2 separate regions of the Homo sapiens genome follow, and region 2 is linked to region 1. The links come from fine-mapping of genetic effects on gene expression. A gene starts in region 1. The other region holds a variant in brackets. All regions are shown on one strand. Distances are between the middles of the regions.

The links. PIP is the estimated chance that this variant, and not a neighbour inherited with it, causes the effect. A credible set is the group of variants that fine-mapping cannot tell apart.
Region 2: its variant is the best candidate, but not a certain one, in a credible set for the expression of ATP6V1B1 in unexposed skin (GTEx, PIP 0.79).

What each region holds. Positions count from the first base shown.
Region 1 is chr2:70,928,854-70,940,022 of GRCh38, forward strand. ATP6V1B1 (ATPase H+ transporting V1 subunit B1) reads left to right here and starts at 7,047. Exons shown (of 14, transcript NM_001692.4): 1 at 7,047-7,219. The coding sequence starts at 7,102. It overlaps VAX2 (ventral anterior homeobox 2), which reads left to right. Exons shown (of 3, transcript NM_012476.3): 3 at 3,914-4,593. The coding sequence ends at 4,351. It also overlaps the pseudogene LOC124906188. RefSeq lists enhancers at 9,651-10,491, 10,492-11,169.
Region 2 is chr2:70,905,639-70,916,945 of GRCh38, forward strand. All of the region lies in intron 1 of VAX2 (ventral anterior homeobox 2), which reads left to right. Among named protein-coding and RNA genes, the nearest start is that of VAX2, 11 kb to the left of the region's middle. The variant A/G (reference allele first, on the strand shown) is at 4,878.

The DNA.
Region 1 (11,169 bases):
GTGATGCCAAGCTCCCTAAATGGGTTTTCTTCTTTCATCTCTGCAATAGCCAAGTATTATTGTCCCCATTTTAAAGATAAGACACTGAGGCTCAGGGGTTCCTGGAGGTGGCCTGGCCTCAGGTCCTAGGACGGGGAGGTGCTGGCTTGGCTAAGAGGTCAGGAAGCTTCCCAGCAGGGAGGGGGAATGCAGCAGTGTGCAGCGCTATGGTCCTTGAGGATCTGGTGAGACTCCTTCCCTCAGCAGTCAGATTCCAGAGGTGACAAATGGGAAAGGGTTTTCTTCTTTCCAGTCATTGCCTTCAGCTAGACTTGGCTGAATCTTCCTTGACCATCCCTTACTGATATCTTCTTCAAATGTCCCCTCTTCAGGGAGGCTGTATGTGCCATTCCATTAACAAAACAGTCACCCCCCTCCTTCCTTTCTGCTATCCTGCCACCTTTCTCTAAAGCAGTGCCCCCCAGAGTATGGCCCTTGGGCCACTGCCAGCCCATAAACTGTTACCTGTCTATGACATGGTAAGTATAGAAATAAAGAATAGGTATTTAGAAAAGGCCTGGAGCGGTGGCTCATGCCTGTAATCCCAGCACTTTAGGAGGCCGAGGTGGGCAGATCACGAGGTCAGGAGTTCGAGACCAGCCTGGCCAACATGGTGAAACCCTGTCTCTAGCAAAAATACAAAAATTAGTTGGGTGTGATGGCACACGCCTATAATCCCAGCTACTCAGGAGGCTGAGGCAGGAGACTCACTTGAACCCCGGAGGTGGAAGTTGCAGTGAGCCGAGATCATGCCACTGCACTCCAGCCTGGGCTACAGAGTGAGACTCCATCTCAAAAAAAAAAAACAATGTATATAGCAATCTTTCCAGTAATTCATTTTAATTGTATTTTTTAAAGTATTGGTCCTCAACAAAATTGGACACTTTATAAAGTGGTCCTCACCTCAAATCATTTGAGAAACACGGCTCAAAGCCCTTGCTGCCAATTGACAGACAGGCTTGTTTGTGTTTGTTGTTCATCCTCTGCCTCCCCAACTCCACCGCCCACTCCACGTGGCAAGGATTCACTGGGCTTTGTTCACTGCTGATTCCCTGGGCCTCAATGTATATCTGGTGAGTGAATGAATGGATAAATGAAGCAATCAACCTCAAGTAGGTCTCATAACTTTCTGGTCACTTTTGATTATTGAATCTGCATCCGCCAGGTGCGGTGGTGTGCACCTGTAGTCCCAGAACTTGGGAGGCTGAGGCAAGAGGATCACTTGAGGCCAGGATTTTGAGGCTGCAGTGAGCTCTCATGACACTAGTGTACTGCAGCCCAGGCAGAAAACCAACACTTTGTCTCTAAAAACAAAAATAAAGAAATAAACTCAATCCAATGTCCTTCAAAACACCAACTCACATCTAGTTTAAATCTCATCTTCTCCTGAAGCCCCACACCTGCTTCCCCACTCAGAACAGCCTTGACTCACTGCTTGCCAGCAAGGTTTGAGGTTTGAGGAAAGCACATCTCACATAGGAGCATGAACACCCAGTCATCCTGCTGAAGAACTACAAAAGGACCCCTGCCCACTCTTTACCTCCTCCCAGTGCAGCCTCTGGAGGGGATTGTGATCTGTCTCAGTCACTTGCTCCCTCTTCCCCCAACAGCCACCTCCTCCAGGATCAGACGACAGGGGGTGGCTTCAAGGAGGCAGAGATCTTTTTAAAAGACTGGACATCTTCTGGTGTGAGGAGGGGAAGCACCAAGGCCTCACTTTCTGAAGGCCTTTGCTGAAGGGCCAGTCACTCCTAGCAGGTGGTGATGTCTGGCATGGCCCAGGTGGCCCAGTCTGTCTTGGCTCTGCCTGTCTTCTTAACCTGGGCAGCCCTCTGGCTCAAGCCTTCTCCTCCACCCATCTCTTGGCAACTTCTCAAAACCACAGCAGTTGCTGGACTATTAAATCTTCCAAAAGCTGGAAGGAACCAGCAAGGTCTTCCTGACCTTTTCTTATTGGGCCCTCCCCTCCACGGTTCTCACCCTCCCTGCCGGTACACCTGCCCCAGCTCCAGGCGAGGAGCAGGGTTGGCCTCTATGTTCCCAGGGAAACAAGTCTGGGTGCTCCCATGGTGGCCTCCATGACATGGGCCTGTAGATGCTGTGGCCTGATGAGTTTCTGGAGTGGGGCATGAATGCCAGTCTCTCCTTCTAGTGCCTACAAGTGATTCTTTTGGGCCCTCCCCCAACTTGCATCTGCAGGGCAGCACACCCTTCCTCCCATGAGGTTTTGTGGCCCCCAGGGGACTGAGCCTCAGCTTCCTGCCCAGTTCCCTTTCCTCATGTAGAGTAGGAAGGGGTTTGGAGCACTGGGTGTTGGGTAGTAGAGGCAGGGCCAGTTCTGCCTCCTCTCAGAGGCCCTGAAAAAGACCTCTTCCATGATTCTGGTGACTTTCTTCAGACTGTGGCACCTCTTTGTCCTCAGCTTTGAATGTGTGGCCAACAGAAGTCCCCCTCAACAACCTGCCACATCCAGTCACACTTGGTGTCACATTGAGAAACTTGGCCTTTATAGGTGATGGGGTAGGAGGGTGCTGCTAAAAACTTCAAACCGGGCAATGGCCAGATTGGGTTAGAAAGAGCTCCCTCCAAAGGCAGCGTGGCGGCCAGCATGGATGCAGAGACCTCACCATCCCCAGACAGGCATCTGGCCCCTCCTCTGGTCATGCCCCTCCCTACGGAATGAGGACTCTGCAAAGCCAAGGGGTCTCGCCTGCCAGAAGCCTGTGCCCACCTTTGAGACCACCCATCCCTGCCAACAAAGTGTCCAGTTTCAGAATTCCCCGCCAAATGGCCCTGAGCCACATCCGGCACCTGCCTGGGCCTCTCCAGGGTCAGTCTTCCCAAGGGCAGACCACAGACATTATTCAGCACTCCAGGCCCAAGAAGCGGCCAATGGGGGGCTATTTGCAGACTGTGAACAGGCTGGGGCAGCCACACACGTGTGGGTCAGAGCCAGGGTGGGCCATGAGCCAGAGGCTTCCATTTTTTCTCTTGCCCCAGCCCTCTAGATGTTACAGTTTAGACCTGGGGCAGAGACACCTTTAAAACACTGGCTTCTTCACCTTGGAATCACCTGGTGAGCTTTAAAAACTACTAAAGTCTGGGTCCCAGGTTCCCCCGTTCTGAGTTTATTGGTCCAAGGTGAGAAGTGAGTTAGGGGCTTAAAGCTCCCCAGGTTCTCATGGGCAGCCAGGGTCGAGAGGTGCTGCTGTAGAGACAATGCCACGGTCCAGGTCAGAGAGAACAAAGGGAGAGAGGAGGGTCTGTTCTAGGCAGCTGGGAGACAGGCTCCTGCATGAGTGAGTGGAGGCAGCCATGATGGAAGAGGGAGCGTGGGAAGCCTCTGTTTGGAGGACAGAGCTGCACATGTGGGGTTTGGGGTGTTTTTTGAGATATCCATGGGGAGATGTCTAGCAGGCAGGTGGATACATGGCCTGGATCTCAGTTCAGATCTCTGGGCCTGAGGTAGAGTTGGAATTACCAGCACATAAATGGTGGCTGAGGCTGTGAACTTGACTTTGAGCCAAGGGCATGTGGGCCAAGAGGAGAACATCAGTTGTACTCCCAAACTCCATTCTCTGTCTGTCGATCCATTCCTCCATCCTAGGCCAGAGTCAGTTTAGTAGTAGAGGGGCCTCCATAATTTGGGGGACCAGAGTCCCTAATCAGTTCGCCTACAGCAGGATGGTTGTGGGGAGACCTTAACAACAATCTGCTCTTCTTTCCCTCTTGCTCCACCCTCACACCCCACCCCCACCCCCATCCACCACCTGCCCCAACCCCATGCCCTTCCTCTCCTTTCCTCCTCCCACCTGCCCCCACTTTGCTTTGCCTGTCCCATCTCCCTCCTTGACACCCCCTCCCCCACCCCAAGGTGAAGGTCTGGTTCCAGAACCGCCGCACCAAGCAGAAGAAAGACCAGAGCAGAGACCTGGAGAAGCGGGCGTCCTCCTCAGCCTCCGAGGCCTTTGCCACCTCCAACATTCTGCGGCTGCTGGAGCAGGGCCGGCTGCTCTCTGTGCCCAGGGCCCCTAGCCTCCTGGCGCTGACCCCTAGCCTGCCAGGCCTACCTGCCAGCCACAGGGGCACCTCCTTAGGTGACCCCAGGAACTCCTCCCCACGCCTCAACCCGCTGTCCTCGGCCTCAGCGTCCCCCCCACTGCCGCCCCCTCTGCCAGCTGTCTGCTTTTCCTCGGCCCCGCTCCTGGATCTGCCTGCCGGCTACGAACTGGGTTCCTCGGCCTTCGAGCCATACAGCTGGCTAGAACGGAAAGTGGGCAGCGCCAGCAGCTGCAAGAAAGCTAACACTTAAGACTCCCACCCTGTGACACTGAGTCCCGAGCACAGCACCTTCCCAGTCTCCTGTGCCCCAGCGGACAGCACTGAGCAGGCCCCGGAGAGGAGGGGCTGCAGCCACACACTCTTCCCCACCTGCCCCCCAGCTCAGAGACTCGTGACCAAATGGCCTTGGTCCCGCAGCTTGTGTGCGTGAGTGCAGTGTGAGTGTGTGTGTCTCTCACTGAAATAAAAGGAAAACAATGACAAGAAGGGAAATGGTGCCCACAGCACAACTACTTACCCCTCAATCCCTTCTATCCCTCTTGTCACTGGAAGGGAAAATGGGCTTAGAGTCAGAGGGACCTCAGATGGGAGAGGGCAGAAACTGGGATTCTGGGGGTCAGGGGACTCACATGTGTCGGTCAGCAGGCACCTGATTCCCACTCAATAGAAGCCCATGGCACCAACACGAATTCTTTGGTTAAATGTTGCCCTTTACAAGCTCTCTTTCAAACATAAAAATACTTGAGAGAGGGAAACATTGTCACCTTGAAGAGGGTGAATGGTGAAAGGGGAGACCAGGTTGAGAGAGAGGGAGAGAGAGCATCAAAGCTAAACACAAGCAAGAGTCCAGATGTTTAGAGACGGCCTACCCATCACAAACTGCAACATGAAACCCTTTAAAATATCTATACACAGCCTGGCCAACATGGGGAAACTCCATCTCTACTCAAAATACAAAAATTAGCTGGGCATGGTGGCGGGCGCCTGTAATCTCAGCCACTCAGGAGGCTGAAGCAGGAGAATCGCTTGAACCCAGGAGGTGGAGGCTGCAGTGAGCCAAGATCATGCCTCTGCATTTCAGCCTGACAACAGAGGGAGACTCTGACTCAAAAAAAAAAAAAAATATATATATATATATACACACACACACACACACACACACACATACATATTATATATATTTCATATTGCTCAAACAATATAAATTTTTTTAAAGTTAAATAAGAGTCTTGCTCAAGACTCTTTTATTTAACTTTTTATTTTGCAGTAATTATAGATTTACAGGAAGCTGCAGAGATAGGACAGAGAAGTTCCTTCCATTGGCAGGAACTCAATAGTATGAGACAGATAGGCTTCATCTTCCCTAACTATAGTACAATATCAAAACTAGGAAATTGGCATTGGTACCGTGTGTGTGCATAGTGCCATGTCATTTTATAGATTCATGGACTCACTGCTGCAATCCAGATGCAGACCTGTTCCATCACCACAGAGATCTTCCTCATGCTGCTCCTTGATGGTCACACCCACCCCCGCCCTCCACAGGAGAGTTCTTTGAAAGGATGGGCATTAGGAACCAGAGACCTGAAATGGGTCCTCAGGAGGGAGGATGCGGGGTAAGATTTTGACTCTGTGAAGAGAAATAACAAGCACAGTCTCCTCCAGTCTGCTCTGAGAAACATAGTAGCTGCTGCTTTGGTTTCAAATTGGCTGTCCTGAGTCACCTGGAGTGGGTGCTTGGGGACAGTGATCCCTAGGCAAATGTACTTCTGCCGTTCCCTCTGCTCAGTGGTATGGTTTGGGGAGGAGCTTAGAAATGCAGAAATCCTGAGCCTAGAATGAGGCATGGGGGTGACTAGAAGACCTTGGGTTGGGCAGGTCCAGCTACCACCCAGGGTCCACCCTGCCTTGCCCAGAGGAACTGTACCACACTCCACTCACCAGGAGAAACCACAACTCTTAGTTTCATGACATGAAGAGAGAGTTCTTGGGAAGCAGTGGTGAGGTCTTGGGTGGAACCCAGGCCAGGCTGTGCACATAGTTTGATTTATAACTCCAGGTATTTAGTTATACAATACAGGGACCTCCATTTTACTTTCTGACCTGGGCTGGAAAGGTCAGGGCAGGCCTGCTGTATAGAAATCTGGAGGTGAATGTGAGAAGATGAGACACGGTTCTATGATCAGATGGAGAGAGACCAGCCCTCATTCTCAAGAACTCTCAATAGTATGAGACAGACAGGCTTCAGGAGACCCAGGTCTGTGGGTTGAGACACAGGCTCAGCTTTTGGGGGCTCACAGCCCAGTGGCAGGGACAAGAGAGGCCTCTCCTAAAGGGCATGACTTAGGAAAGAGGCTAGATGTGTAGTAAATCTTGGCTGCTAGAGAATCCAGAGAAGGCTTCATGTAGGAGATGGCACTGAGGCTGACCAGGAAATAATTCTCTACAGATGTTCAAAAAGATGACGATGGAATTGTCAGGGGGCAGAAGTATCCAGGTATAGTCAGGGCAAGGAGTGCAGGGTAAGGTCAGGTTGCGAGAACAGTGAAGAAAGGGCAGCCTGCCAGAAGTTGGGTGTGGAGAGACCAGAAAGAGCTGTGGTGAGGGACGAGTGTGGGAATGTTGACAGCACCTGATGGTCCAGGGGAGGAATTGAATTCATACAGTTTGGGGTTGGCGGGGAGGAACCGCCTAGCACAGAAGAAGGAAAAAGCCAGCCCTCCCCTCTTCCCTTCTCCCTCCACATCCTCCAGCTCTCAGGTGACGGGGGCCCCTCCCAGACCTGCACAGCTTGGTGTGGGGAAAGCTTGGGAGCCAGAGCCCCAGGCTTCCTTGTTTACTGTCAACCTAGAGGAGGAGGAGAGGGAGGGGAGGGGGAGAGGGGAGGGGTGGCTGCAGGGGAAGGCTGAGCAGCTCTCTCCAGCTCCAGCTGGACCTGAAGTCTCAGAGCTGCCACCAGCAGCAGGCTCAGACACTGGGCTCCCAGCTGGGGACTGCTCCATGGCCATGGAGATAGACAGCAGGCCTGGGGGGCTCCCCGGCAGTAGCTGCAACCTAGGTGCAGCCCGAGAACACATGCAGGCGGTCACCCGAAACTACATCACCCACCCCCGTGTCAGTGAGTAGCCCCTCCACCGTGACGGGTGAGGTCAGGGTGGGGAGCTGGGGTGGGCTGCCAGGTTCCCGGGCCCCGCTTCTTGCCTCAGAAAAGGAGGAGGACCCAAGACCTGGGGAGACCTGGAGGGCTCTCTGTCCAGCAGAGTGACGCAGTGGGGCCACCTGGACCAGAGGCCACCTCTGCAGGTGAAGGGTTGCAGGTCCCCAGCCCAGCCCACCCCAGAAGAGAGGGCTGGGGAGTAGCTGTCATCAGCCCAATCCTGCTGTAACACCCGAAGTCCAGAGATAGCTTCCAGTTGCCCCTGAGAGTGGGGTGTGCTGTGCACCTGCTCTTGTGTAAACGTGCCTGTGTGAGGAGTGTGCACCCAAGCACTCAGAGTCAGGCGGGGTGTGATTAAGTGTACTTGGAGTGGTGTGTGTGGCAGTGCAGAGTGTCAGCGCTCTCAGCCTGAGGAAATAGGTGCCCCGTGTGCGTCACATCAATGGGTGCATGTCGTATGTGTGTTCTGAGGAGGGTGCCTGTGTGCATAAGCAGGTAGGAGCATGTGCCTAGGGGGTGCTCCCACCTTCACTTGGGGTAAGGAAATGTGTGACTGCATGCTTATGCACTCAGGGCAAAGGTGTGTGTGTGTGCACTTAGGTGTGATGTACGTGTGTGCATGTGCACTCATGGAGAGAACACTTGTGTATGTGTTCTGGCAGTGTCACATATCTGAGTATGGTGAGTGTGTGTACAGCTGGGATAAGAATGCGTATCCAGGTGTGGGGCATGGAAGTGTCTACAGGTGCTGGGATGTACCCTTGTCAATTTCAGAGGGGAGGCCCTACTTGTGGCTCCTGTGCCTGTCCTGCAAGGGTGGCCCAGATGTCTGGGGCAAGGTCCAGAGGACCAAAGGGAACCCCTGCATCTCCTTGTCCAAGGTCACTCTCCCTGGCCTGGTGAATTCTCAGGCCGCCCTGCTCACTGGAGTAAACCAGCATGGCCCGCCACAGCTATGCAAAGCCAGAGGCTCACTGGAGTAAACCAGCATGGCCCGCCACAGCTATGCAGAGCCAGAGGCTCACTGGAGTAAACCAGCATGGCCCGCCACAGCTATGCAGAGCCAGAGGCTCCTAACAGGGAGTGTGGTGTGAGGGGAAGTGAGCCTGATGCAGCCACCCCACCTCCCTCTGTTCCTCTGTTGCTATCCAGGCCAGGAGAGGAGGTGGAGTGAACTCAGAGGGTAGCTGAGGGGTGAAATCAGAGTAAAGGGGCCCGGGGGCGCATGGGAGGAGAGCCCTGGGGTGTGGGGCACCTCCTGAGGCCTGAGGCAGGTGCTGAGGGTGGAGCACATTCCAGCTAAGAAGAAATGGTGAGAATGGGGTGGGTCAGATTTCTCAAGCAAGGCCTGTAGGCCCTGCCCCATGGAGCTCGGGGGAGGATAGGAGGTCCGGATACTCCCTAGGCCAAAGCTAGGGTCACCAAGGCCCAGAAATATGCAGTGACTGGGCCCCCTTGGGTCCAGAGCCCAGGCCTGGAGCCCTGAGCTGGCATGTGTGACTCTTGCCAGTCTGTTGTGATGAGCCCCACTCCCTGCAGGCCGTCCCTCCTCCCTGCAGGCACCCGGGAGTTGCTGGGTGCTGAGTGTGGTGTGTGATCTGCACCTTCATGCTCTGCTTTCCTTCTTCCTGGAAAGTGCCCCCACCTCCTGATACCCAGGGACCCTATAGGTACCATCTAACCCCACACTCCTCTGGGCAGGTTGGCCCAAGCCTGGAGCCACCTCCAGCCAGCTCTTTCCCACCCAGCCCCTTATGTATAGTCAACATGCCCTGGAGGTTCTGACCCAGGCTGGAACCCAGGGATGGCTGTGCCCGCCCCCCATGTTTGCATGCTTCCCTCGATGCTGGCTCTATATGGCCTCCACCCAGGAGAATGTGTTCACACCAAACAACCCAACAGTGGACCCAGAGCAAAGGTCAGTGCAGGGGAGCCCCTCTAGGCTCTGCTCCCTGCCAGCGCCTTTACTTTTGCTGCCTATCAAGTATCCTCACAGGATGCACCGGGCCAGCCTCAGCCCAGCCCAGATGCCCTCCCACCCCCAGGGGAAGGCTGGGATTCCTTGGTGTGTCCCTTCATCCACAGTGTCTCCCAATCCCCTCCCCGCCTCACTCACTTCCTCCTCAGGCTCTGGGAGTGGGAGGGATGAGGGGGGTGGTTCTCCCTGGGGCCTGTGGACAGGCGCAGGGCTGGCAAGGGTTTGGAAATTTAGGGCTGCACCCTCAGTACGCCAGAGGCAGGGCCACTCTGTCCCTCTCCACCTGTCTCCTCCCCAGCCTGGCCTCCTACCCTGGGTCTGTAAGCACTCCCAGACAGGAGAACTCTGGGAGAAAAGCTGGGGGTGCCTAAGGGCAGGGAGGCCCCAGTGCTCGCTGGGCCACGGTGGAGGTGAGTCCAGGTGACTTAGGCATTCCCCTCCCCCGGGGGAGGTGGGCTAAAGAGGCCTGAGACTTTAAGGCTGATTTCACTGCAGTGGCTGAGAGAGGATTGGCTAGAAAGGAGGAGACACTAGAAAGAGTGGAGGCAGCCTGGGGAGCTGACCCTGCCAACATCTACCTTGGGAAAGAAGGGTCCCCTGTGCCTCCCGTGGAGCTAGAATGGTTCCCCAAGGGCCTTGGCTCCCGGCTGGGGAGGAGGTATCCTGGAGCTTCATCTGTTTGGGCAGAAGATGTTGGGCTTGGAGGGTGGAGGTGCCCAGCAGGAGCAAAGGTCAGGAAGGACAAGCTGGCAGCCTGGTTGGAGGGATGAAGCCAGGTCAGATCCCTGAAGATCCCCCAGGAGCTTGAGTGCCAAACCACTGTCTTTGCCTCCCCACCTCGGTTTCCTCAACTGGAAGGGGAAGGAGTTACACGGAGAGAGTCCCAACAAGCAGGGTCTTGGGCTGAAGAGCCCTCAGCTTCCAGCCCCTGCCCTCCCTCCTCTAATCCCTCCAGCGGGATCAGGGAGGAGGTGCGGGACCTGCTGCCCCGGGCTTGCCCCCATCCCGGCCTCACGCATGGGCGCCTGTCTCAGCCCTCTCCCAGGACGCTGCAGGTGTGGCTGGGCCAGCGCTAATTAGTGGGCCGCGCGGGGGCCCCGCTGAGCCTTTGACAGAAAAGGCGGTAGGGAGGTGGGGGCAGGGAGGCGCTCCACCAGCCAGAAGTCCGGAGCGCAACCCAAAGTGTCAGCTAAGACAATGGAGAGGGGGTGGGCCGGGCAGCTGGAGGGAGTGTCTGCAAAGTCTCTGGAAGGCCCATGGAAGGAGCGCCCTTTGGGTCTTCTGATCCAGCCCTCTGCCTGTGGCAATGCACCCGCTTCCCTCTCCAGGGTCAAGGCGAACATCCCAGGGTTGCAGAGTGGGCCATAATCGCTGAGCGCTGCAGGATACCGTCTTGAACTGTGGTGCGTCCTGCCAGAAACTAGCCCACTTTCTGGGCCTCGTTTTGCCACTCCATGCAAGGGACACACGGAGGTAGGGGCGGCAGTGTACAAACAAAAGGACCGGCTTGCAGTCAAGGACACCTCTGTTGCTCAGCCCCCATTTTGGCTGTGTCCAAACCAAACAGCCTAGAAGAAAAGATCAGGCTGGCTTAACAGGGGAGAGGCAGAGCTCTAAGACATCTGACGGGAGAGACATCCCTCTAGGGTCCCAGTCTGTAGTACCGTGGGACAGCAGTGGGGAGAGGACCCAGTGGGCTGCAGTAGTCAGTCAAGGGCAAGGCCTTGAAGGATGGGCATAGTCCAATGCTGAACAGAAACAGCCGCCTAAGTGGATTATCTGCAATGATGGGTCCAGGCCATGAAGCGATGTGTTCACCCAGAGCCAGGCCTGGAGGCTGCGAGAAGCCCAGGAAGGCAACTCACAGCTGAGGCTGATGTGCTAAGATGTTGAGCTTCGATATCTCACCCCGGTCACCCGAGCGGCCTGGCCG
Region 2 (11,307 bases), 23 kb before region 1:
CCCAGGAACCCATGGAACTGCCACCGCATCCCCTTGCCCCACACACCTGCATCTTCAGGGATGGTCCCCCAGGTAGCTTCTGGGGAGTCCGAGGGGCAAGGAGGCCAAATCCTTTGGAAGCCCGGACAAGGAGTGGGTACCTGGGGCTACAGGAAAGGGAGGAGATGGCAGTGGCATGCACCCGCAGTCAGTCAAAGCCACCGGGCTCAAGTCTTCCTCTTTTGCGCAGCACCGGTAAGGAGAGAGGGTGTCTATGCATCACGTTGGCCTGGGTGCCATTTCCCCAATTACCCCTTGGCTGCAGGCTCCCTTCTTGTTGGCTACATTTCTTTGATTTCTATTTTAATGGTGGGAGGTGGAGCATATGAATTTTGCCTATTTGCTCCTTGCTTAATATAAAATCACAAATAATGCTAGACCTGACTACCCTTGGAGAGCCAGTAGCCGGTTACCTGGCTGTGCATCTGCAGATTCTGTACCCCAGTTCAAGATACTCTGATAGAAGACACCAACGCTGCATGGGCCTGCCCACCAATCCCTGCGGCGAGACAGGTCTAGGAGGCTAGTTCATTCCTCATACCCCCAACCCAGCTCATCCGGGAAGGCAGTTGGGGGTTTCAGTGTCCTGGGTTCTCCCACTGTTGGTGGATGCTGACTGGGGACATTCAGCACTGCAGAAAGAGGTAGCAGCCCCAGGCTTGGATGTGGCCTACAGAGCCAGGGTGAATGCACCCGGAAAGTCAGGGTGAGTGCCAGACTGAAGGAGTGTGCTATAAGGCCCTGGCGGAGGCTTGGGCTTGTAAAGGCTCAGGGCCCTCCTTGAACCATCTCCCCCGTGGCCTTAACATCTTTTATTCTTTCTTTTTTTTTCTTTTCTTTTCCTTTTTTTTTTTTTTTTTTTTTTTTTTAGATAGAGTGGTTGCTCTGTTGCCCAGACTAGAGTGCAAGGGTGCAATCATAGTTCACTGTAACCTTGAACCTCTGGGCTCAAGCGATCCTCCCTCATCGACCTCCCAAAGTGCTGGATTACAGGACTGAGCTACCGCGCGTTTCTTGTTCTTTAACTTATTCTACAAACATTAATGCGTACTCACTGTGTGCCAGACTGATCCTGGCTCAAGCTGCTGGCACGCAGCTTCCCATAAATGTAAGCTGTTTCTGCCCAGCTCCCACAGTCAGGCCAGAAACAGCTGGGTAGAGACTTCCCCGCTGAAGTCGAGGGGGCGGGCTCCCCGAGCCTGCTTCCCTTGAAGCCAGGCAAAGACCACGTAGGAGGTGGTCACTGTGCCCACCAAATCCAGGCGATCTTCCCGGATGCTTTTAGTGCACTGTAGGCACTCAATAAATACTTCTCGAATAACTTAAATGGGACAAAATTCATCAACATGGCATAATTCTGTAGGTATTAATTAGGCGGCCAACGCCTTCTCCCGGAAGAACGTGTGTTCTAATATTATCTTATTTTTTGACGTTGCAATGTCCTTCTTATATGAAACAGTGATCATGGCAGAACATAGAATAATTGTTAAAGCATGAAGTTGACAACCCCATAGTTTCGAAATTTTGTTTCTGCAATCCGCAGCTTTGGGAAGCACTGAATTACAAAACCTGAAAACCCTCATATATGTGGCGGCTTAGAGGCCGGCCTAGGCTGGAGCGGAGGTCTTGGGAAGCGCTGGGCCGCTCGTAAAGTCAATGGTGAGTCTCCCGGCTTTCGGCTTTCGGCTTTCGGCGGCAGCCGGGTGTGAGGTTCCACGGGCAAAGCCAGCCAGAGGGTTGACAGAAATAACTGGATAAATCTGTGCCCCTGCCCCTGCCGGCTCACACGGCTGCAGCCCACGGCTGGAGCCAAAAATAACCGCGCAGTTGACGCCACGGTTTCTTTAGCGTCTTGCTGGAGACATTGACTTTCAGAGCCCCTGTCCCGCCTTCCATTCCCCACTACTTGGCAGCCCACCGCGTCCACCCGCGGAGCTGCGGAAGCCAGGGCCGGGCAAAGGACACTCTACGAGGCACAGCCTCCGGCAGGGCCACACTTACAATGTAGACAGGAAAATAGAGGATTTAAATTCAAAAAGTAATACGAGCTCGATTTTTTTAAAAACCGGAAGCAAAGAAGGATCCCAGGAACAGCCACTGTTTTCAATTCTGGGCGAGTCCTTCCAGGCGATTTTTCCACGCTCTTATAGACGAACAAATAAATAAAAGCAGAACTATATTTCATAGGCTGTTTTGCAATTTACCATTTCAAAAAAATTTAATCTGCAGTGATCATCTTCTCTGCTGAACCAGTTCTTGCTGTCCCTTGACTGTAGAATTAAGTATTCCTTTAGTTGGGGAAAGCCTAATTCCCCTAAAGACTGGAGGGACCTTGGGGTTGTTTTTCCTTAATATAAACACTGTGAAGTAAGCTCCGAAGGCAGGGTTCTTCTAGACCTTTGACTGTTTCTGTGGGATAAGTTTCTAGCAGTGTAATTACTGCTTCGAAAGATTTACACACACAATTTAAATATATTTCATTTACTGTAATAGGTAATTGTAAAATAGATAATTAATTCATCAAAACATCTTTTTTTCAGACATCAGGAGATGGGAGGTCTCACTATTTTGGGTTTAAGCTGGACTCAAGTGCTCACATAGCTGGGATTACAGGTGGGAGCCACTGCACTTTTTAAAAAGTATCCGGTGAAAAACCTCTCCCATCCCTGTCCCCATCACCCACTTCCCACCTGGTTCAAGGACTTTCTAATATGTCCTTCCAGATAATGTTTATGCCTATGGAAATCAGTGCAGTTATATAACTTTTTTCTTCCAATATATCTTGGGGTGTAAATAACTTTTTGTTTGTTTTTTTTATAGATGCATAATATTCCATTTAAGTGGACTAGGTGGATCATAATGTATATCATATAACCAGTACCCTATTTGTGGACATTTGGTTATTTTCTTATCTGTTGCTATTATATGTAATCCTGAAATAAATAAACTTGTTTCTTAGTCATTTCCACATGTGTGAGTATATCTGTCAGAGAAGTTCCTAAAAGTGAATTACTGGGTCAAATGGTATCTGTGTTTGAAATTTGCAAGATAATGCCCAATTGTTTGTCCTCCATAAGATGGAAGCAGTTTACACTGCCACCAGCGATGTCTGAAAGTGGTTGTTTCTCCAAAATTTGCCAGCACAGTTCACATTTTACATCCTGATGAACATAGTCAAGTTATTCTGCAGGAGAAGTTTAGTTACTTATGTCCACCCCTTTGCCCTGTCCCCACACTGGACATTTTGTATCATTTCATCTTTGTCGATCTTCATATTCATTAGCCAGTTGTATTTCTTCTATCTATTGATTCATTTCCTTTGACCAGTTTAATTTGCAAATATACCTTTTCCTTATTGATCTGTAGAAACTCTATGTATTGCTTTCAATATGTGTTGCAACATTTTAATTTACAATTTATCCTTTGATTTTGTTTAGGATGGTCTTTTGTTTTCAGAAGTATAAAATGTCTTTTTATTTTTATTATGTCATTATATTTATTTTTTAGAGACAAGGGCTCACTCTGTCACCCAGGCTGGAGTGCAGTGGCCCAACAATAGCACACTATAACCTTGAACTCCTGGCCTCAAGCAGTCCCCCCACCTCAGCCTCTGGAGTAACTGAGACTATAGGCACTCCCCACAATGCTGGCCTAGCTTTAATTTTTTATTTATTTTCTTTAATTTTTTATTTTTAATTTTTTTTAGTAGGGACAGGGTTTCACCATATTGAGGAGGCCAGTCTCAAACTCTTGGCCTCAAGCAATCCTCCCACCTGCGCCTCTCATAAAATATCTTTTTAATTACAAAAGCAATCCATACTATTTTGCTATGTCATGTAAAATTTAAAAGTTTCTAATTTCCCTTACATGATACACTTCCACTCCTAAGATTTACCTTCCAAACTTTACCTAGTAATTGAAAAATATAAATATGTAAGTTATATATTACAAAAATTGGATTTTTTTGCAATGACTTTTTTCTTAATTAAACAAATTGTCTTAGCTTGCAAGTAGAGTAAAAGAATATTTGTGGAAATCTTTCTTTCTAGAACTCCCTCATTCTTTTTAACCACTGTATAGGATTCCGTTATGTAGATATCATATAACTTATTTAACTAGTCCTCTATTAATGGATATTTAGGTTGGTTGTACTTTTTCATTATTACAAACAATGCTGTAGTGAACATCTTTGTATCCTAATTTGAACAAATGGTTTGTTTTATTTTTAATTATTCTTATCTTTTTATCCCAGGCAACACCTACCTCATTTATACCATAGAATGAGTGCTCCCTTGAACAAATGGTTTTTTTTAAATCTTATTTATGAGACAATTTGGAACATGTAAAACCAGGTGGGATATTTTATTATATTAAGGAATAATTGTCGATTTTTATTGTGATAATAGTATTATAGGTGACTTTTTTAAGAGTCCCCCCTTTTTAAGAGATACATGTTGAAATACTCATAAGTGAAATGTTATGACTTCTAGAATTTGCTAATAATTACAGCAGAATAGAAGAAAGAAGATTATTCCTGAGTTTCTAATAGTTGAAATTGGGGGATAGGTATATCGGAGCTCATTGTACTGCTCTCCCTAATTTTGTAAATATTTGAAATTTGTCATAATAAACTGTTTAAAGTAACAAGAATCATTTTACATATACATGGTATGAATATAATTACAGGATAAATTCCTAGAAGCAAACTTTTAAAATCCAAGGATATACATTTAAAGTTATGATAGTATTTCCAAATTTTATACCAAAACTCTTATATTGATTTATACTCTTAGCCATCTTGTATAAAAGTGTCATTTCTCTACGTCCTCCCAACTCAG[A/G]ATATACTTAATTTTTTAGAGTGAAATCTTTTCAAGTGACAGAATAATCTCATTTTATTAGTAGTTTAAATTGCTAGTGAGGTTAAGCATGTTTTTATGTAGTTATTCTTCATTTTAATATTCTCTTCTGTGAATTTTTCATATATTTAGCCATTTCTCTATCGGATCACTAATTGTTTTCTCATCTTCGTAAGTGCCACTTATATAGTAAGGAAATGAGCCCTTTTTCTGTGACATGTATTGCAAACAACTCCCAGGTCACTTTCTTAAAAAAAAAAACAAAACAAAACAAAAAACCCACAAAAAAACAGCAACAAAAAACTTTCTTTGTGGGATTTTTTTTTTTTCTAAACTGAAATTTAAACTCTAACCACATTTAATGGTTGTTCCTTTTTGGGCTTCTAGATTCTAGCTCCTAGTTAGAAAAATCTTCATCCAGCATTTAAAACATTATATATGCATACACAAACATATTAAAATGTTTGCTACCAAAAAAATTTTATTCCCTAGTCTTTTCACCAAAAGAAATAATAAAGAAAGACAAAAAATGAGTTGAATCTTTCCTCCCTGATCGGTTTCCACTCCTCAGAGGCAAGAGAAGAGTGAGGTGCTTCTTTTGCCAGACTTGTTCCTATGTGGTTACAAAAACACAAACACACACACAGAAAGAGTTTACTTTTACTGTTTTTTTAATATAAAAATGGGTTTATGCACACTTGCCATTTCACTTAGTAGTATACAATAAACATCCATCCAGGTTATGTGTCTCATTCTTGTTAATGTTTACATATAGCCAAAGTTATTACTAGACTGTGATTTTATCGACAATTTTCCTATTGATAAACATTCAGCTTTTCCCCCTTTTCTCCCTCTTGCAAACTATGCTACAAACAGTGGGTCTGTATTTATCAACTACGCCAACGTTTCTGTGTGATAGAAAGCTCTATAAAAATGCTGGGACAAAGGAACAGTGCATTTTAAGTTTAGCTAGGCATTATTCCTCTTCAAAAACCATATATTATATCAATTTATGTTCTTATTGAGAGAGCTTGAGAGAACCTAATTCTACTCAGCCTTGCCAGTACAATTTTCCAAATCTGATAGATAAAATATGGCATCTCAAAAAACAAGGATATCTCATTGCTGTTATAACTTTCATTTTTCTGATTCCTCTAGCCCGAGTATTTTTTCATATTTATTAACCACATGCATTTCTTCTTCTCTGAATAATTTGTTCGGTTTCCCACTGGACTGCTTGACTTTACTCACTGGTTTACAGAGGCTGTGTGTATACCAGACATTAGGACTCTGTTAAGAATTCATTATGAATATTTTCTCCCCATCTGTCTCTTACCCTGCAGATGCGTTTATTTTTAGGTACTCAAATATGTCATTTATTTTCCTTTCTAGAAAGTTATTTTATATTTGTTCTTCAATTTTTAGAGCTTTTATTTACATTTAAATTTGTGTTTATTTTTGCACACAGTGTGAGATAAATAGCTTTATTCCAAATAATGAACTAATTGTTCAAAAGCTATGTCTCTAATAACCCTGTCTTTCCTCCAACTAATTCAAAATACTGTCTTCCCAACATACCAGATCCACATAGACACATGAATTTGCTTCATAACTCTTGTGCAGCATTATACCATTTTAGTTGCTGTAGATTTGTAACATATTTGCTGTGTGGTAATGCAAGTATTCACTACTATTGTTTAACTTTTTTTGTTGACTATCCTTGCATTTTCAATGTTCCCAATAAACTTGAGAATGAATTTTCCATAAGGAATTTTTATAGCAATCACATTATATTTGTAGGTGGGGGCAGGAAGGGCCTTGCACACTTAAAAGTCAGCATATTATCGGCCAGGCATGGTGGCTCATGCCTGTAATCCCAGCACTTTGGGAGGCCAGAGGGGGCAGATCACTTGAGGTCAGGAGCTTGAAACCAGCCTGGGCAACATGGCGAAACCCCGTCCCTACTAAAAATACAAAAATTAGCCAGGCGCGGTGGTGGGCGCCTGTAATCCCATCTACTCAGGAGGCTGAGGGAGGAGAATCGCTTGAACCCGGGAGGCGGAGGTTGCAGTGAGCTGAGATCACGCCGTTGCACTCCAGCCTGGGTGACAGAGTGAGACTCCGTTTCAAAAAAAAGTCAGCACATTATCAGCTTATCGTGCAAAGAGACTACCTAGTGCTAGGTAGGAAAAGAAGTGAGATAGGGCTTTGGAGGTGGGGGGGATGTCTATTGGGAGAGGTGCCAGAGGGGCACCAGAGGTCAGAAGCATAAGCTAACTACTATCAGGCCGGGGGTCACCACCTCTCCCAAGCAAAGGCTCTTGGGCAGAATTCACCCTCCCACATACCCTCAGAGCTCACTGCTCTTTGAGGAGACTTGAGGGGTAGCAAAATGCAGGACTCATTTCATTTCACCCTAATAAGTGCCTACCTGCAAGGAAGCCCTGGAATGAAAGCTGTTCCTCTTTCCAGATGCTCCTCCCAAACTCCTCCTAGAAAAGGAGCAACTCAAAAAAAGAGGACTATTTTAGTAAGATAGGCTATATTTTGCTGCAGAGACAACCGCAAATTTTAGAGGCTTAACAAAACACAAATGCATTTATCACTCACAGAAGTCCATCACAAGTGGACAGGGGCTCATCCTGATACTCAGAAACCCAGGCTGGTAAAGCTTCTTCACTCCTGCTTCCAAGACCATCACAGTAGAAAGGGTGTGGCAACACACACACACTCTCTGGTTATTGGGTTTTGTTATTTAGGGCAGGGATGGTAATATCCCCTTATCTTATTTTATTGCCTTCCCAACACTCGTCTTTGCCTTACATATTTTTAAAATTTATTTTTTATTAGAAATAAATTGCTTGAAGGCCGGGTGCAGTGGCTTACGCCTGTAATCCCAGCACTTTGGGAGGCTGAGGCGGGGGGATCACTTGAGCCTTTTGAGACCAGTCTGGCCAACATGGTGAAACCCTGCCTCTACTAAAAATACAAAAATTAGCGGGCATGGTGGTGGGTGCCTGTAATCTCAACTACTCAGGAGGCGGATGCAGGAGAATCGTTCGAACCCAGGAGGCAGAGGTTGCCGTGAGCCAAGATCACGCCACTGCACTCTAGCCTGGGTGACAGAGCGAGACTCCGACTCAAAATAAATAAATAAATAAATAAATAAATAAATAAATAAATAAATAACTTTACATTTATTATCTGTCTCCCTCCCCAGTACAAGGTTTACAGGAACAAATGCTTTTCTCTTTTGCTCATTTCTGTATCCCCAGGCCCTAGAATAATATTTGACAAATAAGGGCTTATTAAATACATGTTGAATGGTTGAATATATTCAGTTGTTTTAATCTACATAAATGAGATTAAACTACATGTTATTCTGTAACTTACTTTCATACACTAATGTCTGTTCACATAGCTTATTGCCTCATTCTTTTCAATTATTACATGGTATTTTATAATACAAATGTACCACTATTTGTTCAGCCATTTCTCTTGTGGAAAATACTGAGGATGCTTTCAAATTTTTGGTGTTTTGAGCAGTGCAGCAACACACACCATTGTTGTATATACTTTGGAGCACCTGAGCCTGTGTTTCTCTAGGACAAATACCAACGAAAATAAAATCAGGCCAGGTGCGGTGGCTCATATCTGTAATCCCAGCATTTTGGGAGGCCAAGGTGGGTGGATCACTTGAGGTCAAGAGTTTGAGACCAGCCTGGCCAACATGGTGAAACCCTGTCTCTACTAAAAAATTACAAAAATTAGGGGGCGTGGTGATGGGCACCTGTAATCCCAGCTACTTGGGAGGCTGAGGCAGGAGAATCACTTGAACCCGGGAGGCGGAGGCTGCAGTGAGCATTGATATTGCACCACTGCACTCCAGCCTGAGCAACAGAGTGAGACTCTATCTCAAAAAATAAAATAAAATAATTGGAGCAAAAGTTATGTGCATCTTTAATCTTGATAAATGCAGCCTTAAAAGATGGACTCAATTATGGTTCTATTAATAGCGTATAGGAGTGTAGATTTCCCTACAGTGCACCATTGTTATTAATTGTCATCATTGTTTTTAATCACTTGTTAATGTCCTTTCAACCTTATGGGATATAAAGGGCTTTCCATTGTTGCTGGAACTTGTATTATATTGATTACTATAAAGCTATGCTTATCCTTTCATATGTTTATTGGCCATTTAGCTGTCTTTTTTTGTGAATGACCCAGATAAATTACTTGACCATTTATTTTATCAGGCTATTTACTTAAATTTTTTTTTTTTTTTTTGAGACAGAGTCTCACGGTATTGCCAGGCTGGAGTGCAACGGTGCGATCTTGGCTCACTGCAACCTCTCCCTCCCAGGTTCAAGTGATTCTCATGCCTCGGCCCCTGAGTAGCTGGGATTAGAGGCGCACGCCACCACACCCAGCTAATTTTTTTATTTTTAGTAAAGAAGAGGTTTCACCATGTTGCCCAGGCTGGTCTCCAATGCCTGGCCTCAAGTGATCTGCCCACCTCGGCCTCCCAAAGTGCTGGGATTACAGGCATGAGTTACCACAACCAGCCTCTTTGACTCTTAAATGTATTTTTTTTTTCAAATCTGTTTCTTGTACTTTACCTTGATTTTGGTGCTTTTGTCATCCAAGTTTTTAGCTTTAATATAGTCAAATACATCCTTTGTGTTTCCTTTACAGCCTCCAGTTTTTTTGCTGTTTGTTTTTTGTTTTTTTTGAGACCGAGTCTTGCTCTGTCTCCCAGGCTGGAGAGCAATGGCACAATCTCAGCTCACTGCAACTTCCCCTTCCCTGCCTCAGCCTCCCAAGTAGCTGGATTACAGGTGCCTGCCACCGCATCCAGCTAATTTTTGTATTTTTTAGTAGAGACGGAGTTTCGCCACGTTGGCCAGGCTGGTCTCGAACTCCTGACCTCAGGTGATCCACCTGCCTCAGCCTCCCAAAGTGCTGGGATTACAGGCGTGAGCCACCACGCCTAGCCTACAGCCTCCAGTTTTGCAGCTTGCTTAGAAATTTCATCCCAAGCCTAGCATTCTAAAAACATCCTCCTATATTTTTTTGTAATGCCCTTATAATTTTATCATCTATGATTTGGTCTTTAATCCAGTTGAAATGTGTTGTTATTTATGGAGCGAGATAGGAATTTAACTTAATTTTATTCCAAACATACAATTTATGGTCACCAATCTGCTTAACGTGACTTATTGACTAAATCACTCTTTTCCCATCTTGAATGCCCTTTTATGATAAACTCTATGACTATGGATACATGTGTCTAATATCCCCTTATCTTGTACTTCCCATGCTATTGTTTCCCCACATGCAGTCATTTGAGTCCCATCTTCATTTGTTATATTAATATTCCATTTATTTTCTTAATATTTTAGCATAATGCATTTTAAGATTAAATTTCCACTTTAGCCTCACCCTAAGCCTATAAAATTATAGGTTTAAATTTTTTTCTAGTAAACATTAAAATAAATGCCTAACTTTTTAAATGACATGCTTATTTATGTACAATTTTAAATCATCTTACAAACCATAAGTGGAATACAGAGACACTATCGTGTTTTTTCTACTAATGGATTTGTCAATTTCTGTGACAACACATCACTCTAGCTTTGTGGCATGCTTTTGTTGTCAACTTTTTATTTTGAAATAATTATAGACTCGCAAGGAGTTATAAAAATAGTACAGAGAAGTCCCATGTATCCATCACCTAGCTTCTCTGTAGATGGCATTTTACAAACCTATAGTACCTTATCAAAACCAGAAAATTGACATTAATACAATATAATTAACTAGACTACAGACCTTCCTCAGATTTCACCTGTTTTTCCTTGCACTGTTTTTTTGTTTTTTGTATATAGTTCTATGACATTTTATTACATATATAGATCCATGTCACCACCACCACAGCCATGATACAGTACTGTGGTGTCACCACAAAGGAACTTCCTCTTACTACTCATTGATGGCCAGGTCCTTCCTCCATCCCCAAATCCTGGCAACCACTGATCTGGTCTCCACCTCTATAATTTTGTTACCTTTATATTAAATAAATGGAATCATATAGTGTATAACTTTTGGGAACTGTTTTTTCCCCTCAGTATAATTTCCTGTGTAAATTGTTGTGTGTTTCAATCGTTCTTCCTTTTTTTCCTGAGTAGTATCCCAGAGTACAGTTACACCACAGTTTGTTTAACCATTCACCCATTGAAGGACATCTGATTTATTTCCATTAGGGGGCTATTACAAATAAAGCTGCTATGATCATTTGTATACAGGTTTTTGTGTGAACATAGGATTTCAGCTGGGCTGAAATGGGATTACAGCTCACGCCTGTAATCCCAACACTTTGGGAGGCCCAGGCAGGTGGATCACCTGAGGTCAGGAG